Linked DNA regions of Homo sapiens. The protein of the gene in region 1 purifies or fractionates together with the protein of each later gene. This does not show direct contact. Each region holds a gene or a part of one and is shown on either strand. Other genes may lie near its edges.

Evidence for each region.
Region 2: the proteins of ZBTB32 (region 1) and KBTBD8 purify together in Homo sapiens (co-immunoprecipitation; one large-scale study listed by IntAct). This does not show direct contact.

Annotation. Positions count from the first base shown.
Region 1 is NC_000019.10:35,703,130-35,707,627, forward strand, and holds the start of ZBTB32 (zinc finger and BTB domain-containing protein 32), read left to right. Parts: upstream 1-1,428; 5' UTR 1,429-1,494; intron 1,495-4,498. UniProt on the Homo sapiens protein: DNA-binding protein that binds to the to a 5'-TGTACAGTGT-3' core sequence. May function as a transcriptional transactivator and transcriptional repressor. Probably exerts its repressor effect by preventing GATA3 from binding to DNA.
Region 2 is NC_000003.12:67,008,166-67,011,883, forward strand, and holds the end of KBTBD8 (kelch repeat and BTB domain-containing protein 8), read left to right. Parts: coding exon 1-220; 3' UTR 221-3,045; downstream 3,046-3,718. UniProt on the Homo sapiens protein: Substrate-specific adapter of a BCR (BTB-CUL3-RBX1) E3 ubiquitin ligase complex that acts as a regulator of neural crest specification.

The DNA.
Region 1 (4,498 bases):
TCCCCTGCCTCAGCCTGCCGAGTAGCTGGAATTACAGGCGCCCGCCACCACGCTCAGCTAATTTTTGTATTTTTAGTAGAGACGGGGTTTCACCATGTTGGTCATGCTGATCTCGAACTCCTGACCCCAGGTGATCCGCCCTCCTCGGCCTCCCAAAGTGCTGGGTTTTCAGGCGTGAGCCACCGTGCCCTGCCTGGCTGGCTCTTTTATTTTATTTTTATTTATTTATTAGAGACAGGGCCTCACTGTGTCGCCCAGGCTGCAGTGCAGTGGTGTGATCATAGCTCACTGCAGCCTCGACCTCCTGGGCTCAAGCGATCCTACTACCACCTGGACCTCTCAAAGCCCTGGGATTACGGGCATGAGCCACCGTGCCTGGCCTTGGCTTGCTCTTACGGGCCTCCCAGCCAATCAGGTGTGGCGGCAGCCTACACACCCCCTACACACCTCACAGATGGTAAAGGGTTGAGAGAAAGGTGACAGGGTTTGCAAATGGGAGCTACTTAGGGTGGCAAAATAGAAGCAAGAAAGGCAGGTCAGGCACGGTGTCTCACGGCTGTAGTTCCAGAATTTTGGGAGGCCCAGGTGGAAGGATTGCTTGAGCCCAGGAGTTCGAGGCTGCAGTGAGCTATGATTGCACCATTGCACCCCAGCACCGGCAACAGAGGGAGACCCCGTTCATAAAATAAAAATGAAATAATAATTTTTTAAAAAGCCGGGCGTGGTGGCTCACGCCTGTAATCCCAGCACTTTGGGAGGCCGAGGCGAGTGGATCACGAGGTCAGGAGATCGAGACCATCCTGGCTAACATGGTGAAACCCCATCTCTACTAAATGTACAAAAAATTAGCCGGGCGTGATGGCGGGCGCCTGTAGTCCCAGCTACTTGGGAGGCTAAGGCAGGAGAATGGTGTGAGCCCGGGAGTCGGAGCTTGCAGTGAGCAGAGATCGCGCCACTGCACTCCAGCCTGGGCGACAGAGCGAGACTCTGTCTCAAAAAAAAAAAAAAAAAAAAGGACAGTAGTACTCCTGAGCACTTGCTGAGGGAGCCTCCAGGGCTGTTCAGGTGAAGGAGAATCAGGGTCCAGTCTCTTCGTGGAGAGAGTGGGAAAAGGCAGACTCCACAGCAGATCAACGCTGGGGCCCGGCTGGAAATCAATGAAATCTCAGCCTAAGAGGCCTGAAGCCTATGGACCAATGAGACTCAAGGCTCTGCCCCTTCACAGCCAATCAGCTGCGGGTCCGAGGCAGACGCGCGGGAGTGGCGCTGTCCTAGGTGCCTCCCAGGCTGCCCAGCGTGCTCAGCTGGCCTGAGCGGGAGAATGCGGCCCGCGCTGCAGCCAATCAGCGTCCGCCTCAGGATCCAGGGGTGACCACGTGCGGGAGCGTTGCGTCCCTGGCCTCGCTCCATTCCCCACTTTTAACGGTCACTCGGCCTTAAGCCGTCCTGGGTGTATGTGAGGCTGAAAGGGAAGGAGGAACAGGGTCTGGGCCGGTGAGTGCCATAGTTTTTCTTACTTTACTTTCTTGGGCTTGGGCCCGGCCCAGGCAAATCTGGGGTATGGGGGCTTGACTGGACCTCGTTGATGATTGGGAAGTGCGGGTTGAGGGCTTTAGCCCTTGGGGCTTTCCTCTGCCTTTGAGAGGCTGGAAATGCAGCCTCCTGGCCACCTTTAGGCCTAGGTTTGGCAGAGGCTAAGCCAGCTTGCTCTCTGAGTTGGTCCACGGCCCCCGAGGCCAGCCTGAGTAGGAAGGGTGTTGTGGGGAAGTTGGAGGTCCTTAACTCTGCATGAGGTATGGCCTCCGGACAATGAGAGCTTATCAAGGGTCTCTGGACTGAGCCTGGATCCGGTGACTGAAAGGAGAGGCCTGTGGATCTCCAAAGGTTATGCAGGGGCTGGGCGCGGTGGCTCACGCCTGTAATCCCAGCACTTTGGGAGGCTGAGGCAGGTGGATCATTTGAGGTCAGGAGTTTGAGACCAGCCTGGCCAACATGGAGAAACCCTGTCTCTACGGGGTTTCTAAAAAAAATTACCTGGGCGTGGTGGCACACGTCCGTAATCCCAGCTACTCAGAAAGCTGAGGCAGGAGAATCGCTTGAACTCATTGAACTCAGGAGATGAACGTTGCAGTGAGCTGAGATCACGCCATTGCACTCCAGCCTGGGCGACAGAATGAGACCCTGTCTCAAGAAAAAAAATGAAAAGAAAAAAAAAGTTATGTAGGAAGTCACTGGCCAAGAGATGAAACTAGTGTGCACATGAAGGTTTCCTGGGGTCTTTGGAGCCAGCCTGGGCTGGGAGTGAATGTTCTGGACTCCAGGTTGAGATGTTCTTGGCAGATTTCCCAGTATGGAGTCCAGGTTGGATGATGTGGCCAAGAGGTTAGGCCAGTAATCCTCTGGAGATTCTAGGGAGAAGGATTCTGAATCCCAGCCGAGCTGTTTGCGCTGGATGAAGTATTATTGCCTTGTGGTGGCTCTGTACAGAACTGGGATTGGGTGGCCAGGCGTGGTGGCTCACACCTGTAATCCCAGCACTTTGGGAGGCTGAGGTGGGTGGATCACCAGGTCAGGAGCTCGAGACCAGCCTGACCAACATGGTGAAACCCTGTCTCTACTAAAAATACAAAAATTAGCCAGGTGTGGTGGCAGGTGCCTGTAATCCCAGCTACTCAGGAGTCTGAGGCAGGAGAATCCCTTGAACCCACGAGGCGGAGGTTGCAGTGAGCAGAGATCGCACCACTGCACTCCAGCCTGGGCAACAGAGCAATGCTCTGTCTCAAAAAAAAAAAATTAATTAAAAAAAAAAAAAAGCAGGGCCAGGCGTGGGGGCTCACATCTATAATCCCAGCACTTTGAGAGGCCAAGGCGGGCGGATTACCTGAGGTCAGAAGTTTGAGACCAGCATGACCAACATGGAGAAACCCCATCTCTACTAAAAATACAAAATTAGCTGGGCGTGGTGGCACATGCCTGTAATCCCAGCTACTAGGGAGGCTGAGGCAGGAGAATCGCTTGTACCTGGGAGGCGGAGGTTGCGGTGAGCCGAGATCGTGCCATTGCACTCCAGCCTGGGCAACAAGAGCGAAACTCCATCTCAAAAAAAAAAAAAAAACTGGAATTGGGTCATGTCTGGAGCTTTTCATTCTCCCTGTCCCACTCTTTCCCATGCCTGTTCTGATAATTCCTAGAAGATGAAGATATCAGGCTGTAGGTGCGGGGCAGGTGCATGGGGAGGATGAACATCGTAGTGGAGCACAGGAAGAGGTGTGTGAGATATTCTCCTCTTTAGGAAATCACCCAGGTTTTTGGCAGGGCGTGGTGGCTCACACCTGTAATCCTAGCACTTTGGGAGGCCGAGGCAGGTGGATCACCTGAGGTCAGGAGTTCAAGACCAGCCTGGCCAACGTGGTGAAACCCCATCTCTACTAAAAATGCAAAAAATTAGCCGGGCATGGTAGATGCCTGTAATCCCAGCTACTTAGGAGCCTGAGGTAGGAGAATCACTTGAACCCAGGAGGCAGAGGTTGCAGTGAGCCGAGATCGCGCCACTGCACTCCAGCCTGGGCAACAAGGGCAAAACTCTGTCTCAAAAATAAATAAGTAAATAACATAAAGGAAATCACCCAGGTTGTCTTTACTGATGATCTTTTTTATACTCATGGGGCAGGGTGTTGATACCTAGTTTCATTCAGCTGTTCAGTGGTATTTATGCTTTCGGAGTGCCTTCAGTACACCCAGAGTTCTTTAACCAGGGGTGAGGGTGCAAGGAGTGGCTTATGAGTGGACTTCAAGGAAGTCTAACCCCGAAACCAGTTAATATTGGGGCAGCTCAATTGGCCATTCCCTCTATGGTGTGGTGGGGGCCCGGGGTGCTGGCACATGAAGTGTGCAGTTAATCCCAGCTCGGCAGACAGCCACCAAGCATGATGGCACATGCCTGTAATCCCAGCTACTCAGGAGGCTGAGATAGGGGGATGACTTGAGCCCAGGATGTCAAGACTGCAGTGAGCCATGATTGTGCCACTGCACTCCAGGCTGGGTGACAGAGCAAGACTGTGTCTCTAAAAAAAAAAAAAAAAAAAAAGAACAATTAATGGTATGCATGTATATTATGAGGAGGGGAGGGTAAAGAATAAGCTAGACGATAGTTAACCTCTCCAGCCATGAGGCTCAGAGTAATCTGTCAATCTCTTGTCATGCATTCATATGCCAAGTGGTATAAGTGTCTACCATTTTCTTTTTTTTTTTTTTTTTCGAGATGGAGTCTTAGCTCTGTTACCAGGCTGGAGTGCAGTGGTGTGATCTTGGCTCACTGCAACCTCCGCCTCCCGGGTTTAAGCAATTCTCCTGCCTCAGCCTCCCAAGTAGCTGGGATTACAGGCACGTGCCACCACGCCCAGCTAATTTTTGTATTTTTAGTAGAGACGGCATTTCACCATGTTGGCCAGGACGGTCTCTATCTCTTCACCTTGTGATCCGCCCACCTCGGCCTCCC
Region 2 (3,718 bases), on another chromosome or scaffold:
TTTCCAGAACAAACTCCATTTATTTGTTCGAGCTACTCAAGTGACTGTTGAAGAACACGTCTTCAGAACCAGCAGAAAAAATTCCCTTTACCAATATGATGACATTGCTGACCAGTGGATGAAAGTGTATGAGACCCCAGATCGGCTCTGGGACCTTGGCCGGCATTTTGAATGTGCTGTTGCTAAACTGTATCCTCAGTGTCTTCAGAAAGTACTCTAAATGAGTAGCAGGCCTTAGTGCATCACTGGCATCTCATTCTTAGGAAACTTGTCTTTGATACAAAAGAGTGCTGACAGTATTTCAGAAAGCTGAGAGAGTTTTATACATGGAAAATGGGTATGCTTAAAGATTGCAGGGTAGGGAGGGATTTTCCTTCATCCTTGTGACATTTCATTTCAGTAAGGAAAAGATAACAAAGTGCAATTATCAGCATTTTTTTTTCCTGGCATAAAATTAATCATTTCATTTTATAATTTTGTGATAAATAGTAACTGAGGTACCAGATGAATCAGGACAACTATGCACTCTTATAAGAGCATTTAGGGTATTATTGGGTAAAGACGTCTAAACTTGTTTGATGTGACTTTTAATTTTAAATACGGGTAACAATCTGAGGCAATATCACTAGGACTTTAGCTGTGACCTCTCTAACACAGAGAAGCACTAACTTAGATCCTCATTCTTAATATTTATATGTATCTATTTTTGTGTACTGTTTTCAAGTGTACTGAGATTTAAATGTGTTCTATTATTAGAGTAGATCGAAGAAAAAATTAGTCTCAGAAAGAGCTTTTAGTCTGATTGTTTCCATTTCCCATGTAATTTTAAGTTAAGCTAAAGTTTTAAAGTGGCAGTTTTCTGTCGATGACTTTTTCAAGTGCTAACACTGTCTCTTTTGTGAAAATCTGGAAAAGTGCTCATATTCACAGGTGGCTGGTGCTAGTCTAACTTAATTCATGTGTATAACTAGATGGATTTAAATGGTCTGAGCCTATGCCTATCTTTCAAATTGGTGTGGATTTCATGGCCATAGTACTTTACCTGTTGAACTCTTGTGATTTCACAAGATTCTCTACTTATGTGATAGGAGGGTATGGCCAGTTATTCATCTAACTGGACTCAATCTTAGAATAGTAGGAACATTATACCCAGTTTGCACTAACATGGGCCATTTGTAGCCCAACCTTCTCTTCCATCTACCTGTCCATTCATTATTGGTACAAGGAAAGGTAACTTATTTCTCTTCTGCACAGAGCATAATGTGAAGTTTTATACCTACTTTTAAAATTCTGCTTTCCAGAAACAAAATTCCTGCAGTGGTCTAATTTAATGTCTTTAAGTTTCATATTACAATTAAAACCTCATTTTTTTTTTCCATTTTTGCACTTAACAGTGATGAATACTTTTACGTTGGAATCCTCCTTCTAGCTGAAGGTGATTGAAAAGGAAAAGAGTGAGTGAACAGAACCATAGCTTTCTAGGTACTAAAGCATTTTTTGCATTTAACTGATGAAATTTCTAACAATCATCAGTTAGGAATATTAACATGAAGGATAAACCAACTTATTTGTATACCTAAGGCAGGCATTTGGATCAGTAACATGTTTTACTAAGCCTAGAGTAATTCGTAAAGGGTATAAGCATAGGACAGATTTTGCCCTCAATCACAATATTTGTATTCACTTGAAAGCAAACTGGCATGGTTCGTATTTTAAAAATCTTGCACAAATTGTAATGTGATACTGTGAAACAAATTGAAAACATTGCCTCTTTGCATCACATACCTCGTTTTTCAGAAACTTTCCAAACTGCTTTACATAGACCTCTACAAGTAGGGAATGTTTTCTGAAGCAGAAGTTAAAATGGACAGCATTTCTAGAATTAACATTTTAAAATCTAGTCTTAGCTAGATATGTGGTTTCTTCTTATTGGTGTTGATAGTATGTCTGTAATCTCTGTATAAACTTTGTCAACATTTTTACCTCCCCAGTTTTATCTTCTGTTTTGTTTTTGTTTTTATCATCATGATGTTTTGGAGTTATTACTGTGTATTTTAGAAATCATTCTTTACAGTTTTGCATTGCTGAGGAGAGAGAAAAAACAATTTTTTTGCAAGAGATGTTCATGTAATTTATTTTTGAAAGCTTTGTTGAATAAGATTTCCTGCCGCTTTTTGACAATCTTGTGTATTTAGAAAAATGTATTACTTGAAAACATGACATAGAACATTGAGTTAGCAATTTACATGGGCTGTATGTTATATAAGAGAATGACATACTGTGGCTAATTCAACAGTAGATTTATTCTTTTAGCCTGCACAACAGTTGATCTTTTGGCTATGACAATTTGTATGGAGGGTACGATCTAAGTTAAGTGTGTCAAAAGCAAGGCTTAGGATTTGTTATGGGAGTAGAATATATATTGAATTTTGTATGAAGAACTATTTGTTTAAATTATATAGCTGGGATATTTTGCCACTGTTAAAATGGATTCAGAAGAGGTCCTAGAAAAGTAAGATTAGTGACATGTGTGGGTTTATATTTAGATATTTAAGGTGCATTTTCATAGTGTGGTAAGACCTTAAGTAAAAGGCACAATGGGTACTACAGAATTAAAATGTAGGTCTAACATAATGCCAGTTCCACTTTAACTTTGTTTTTGCATTTGAAGAATGTATGTAGCACTTTCCTATATATTTGTCACACATTGAAAACTGGACTGGGTATAACTATGTTATAGGAAAGTAGAAATTGTATTCTTTATTTTCCATCTTTGTTTTCTGTTCTACAAAGTTGATGCTTAAGCATCAAGCTGATTTTATTGGTCATGAGAACAAATGGATGTGATCATGAAGGAATCAGATTCCCTATGTAAAGCAGTTTAAAATGGAATTCAATGTTCAGTGCTCAGGTATGTAGTAAGTACTGTAGTCCTGTGGGGGCAAATGTGTAGATATTTTTAAACATTTTGCCATAATTGCACAATTTTTTGCATTTTTACCTGATGTCATTGTTTCTTATAATAAAACCTTTTCTGATTGAAAACTTCCAGTGTTGCAAAGTGATATCTGACTAGTGAGTGTTGCAGAATTAAAATCTGGTAAAAAATCATGAAATACCTTATGTCATGATAGAATGGAATGAGATTTTAATCTATTGAATACCTGTCCTCTGGTAAAAAATGAACTACTTTATGTATATAATACTTTTTAAATTCTAAAGCAAGTTAGTTCACTTATATTGGTAAATTCTTTGTTCTGTTTGTTCTGGCCTAAAATCTTGTTATGTTTGACTCTTTTGTGTTGGTCCACTTTGCATTACCGTAAAGGAATACCTGAGATTGAGGCCTCAGGAGGCTTTAGCTCATGGCAGAGGGTGAAGCGGGAGCAGGAAAGAGAGGGAGCCAGAGAAAGTTGGGGGAGGTTCCTGTCTCTTTAACAATGGGATCTCACATGCGCTCATTACCATAGGGAGGGCACCAAGCCATTGATGAAGAATCCACCCCCATGATCCAAATACCTTCCACTAGGCCCCACTTCTTCCAACACTGGGGATCACATTTCGACATGAGATTTGGAGGGGACAAATGCCCACACTATATAATCTCTTACGTATTTCATGTTTAATTCATCAGAAAGTCCCGTTGCTTCTTCCTTCATAATACATCCAGACTCAGACCACATACCATTTGCACCACTGTCACCCTAGTCTAAGCCAG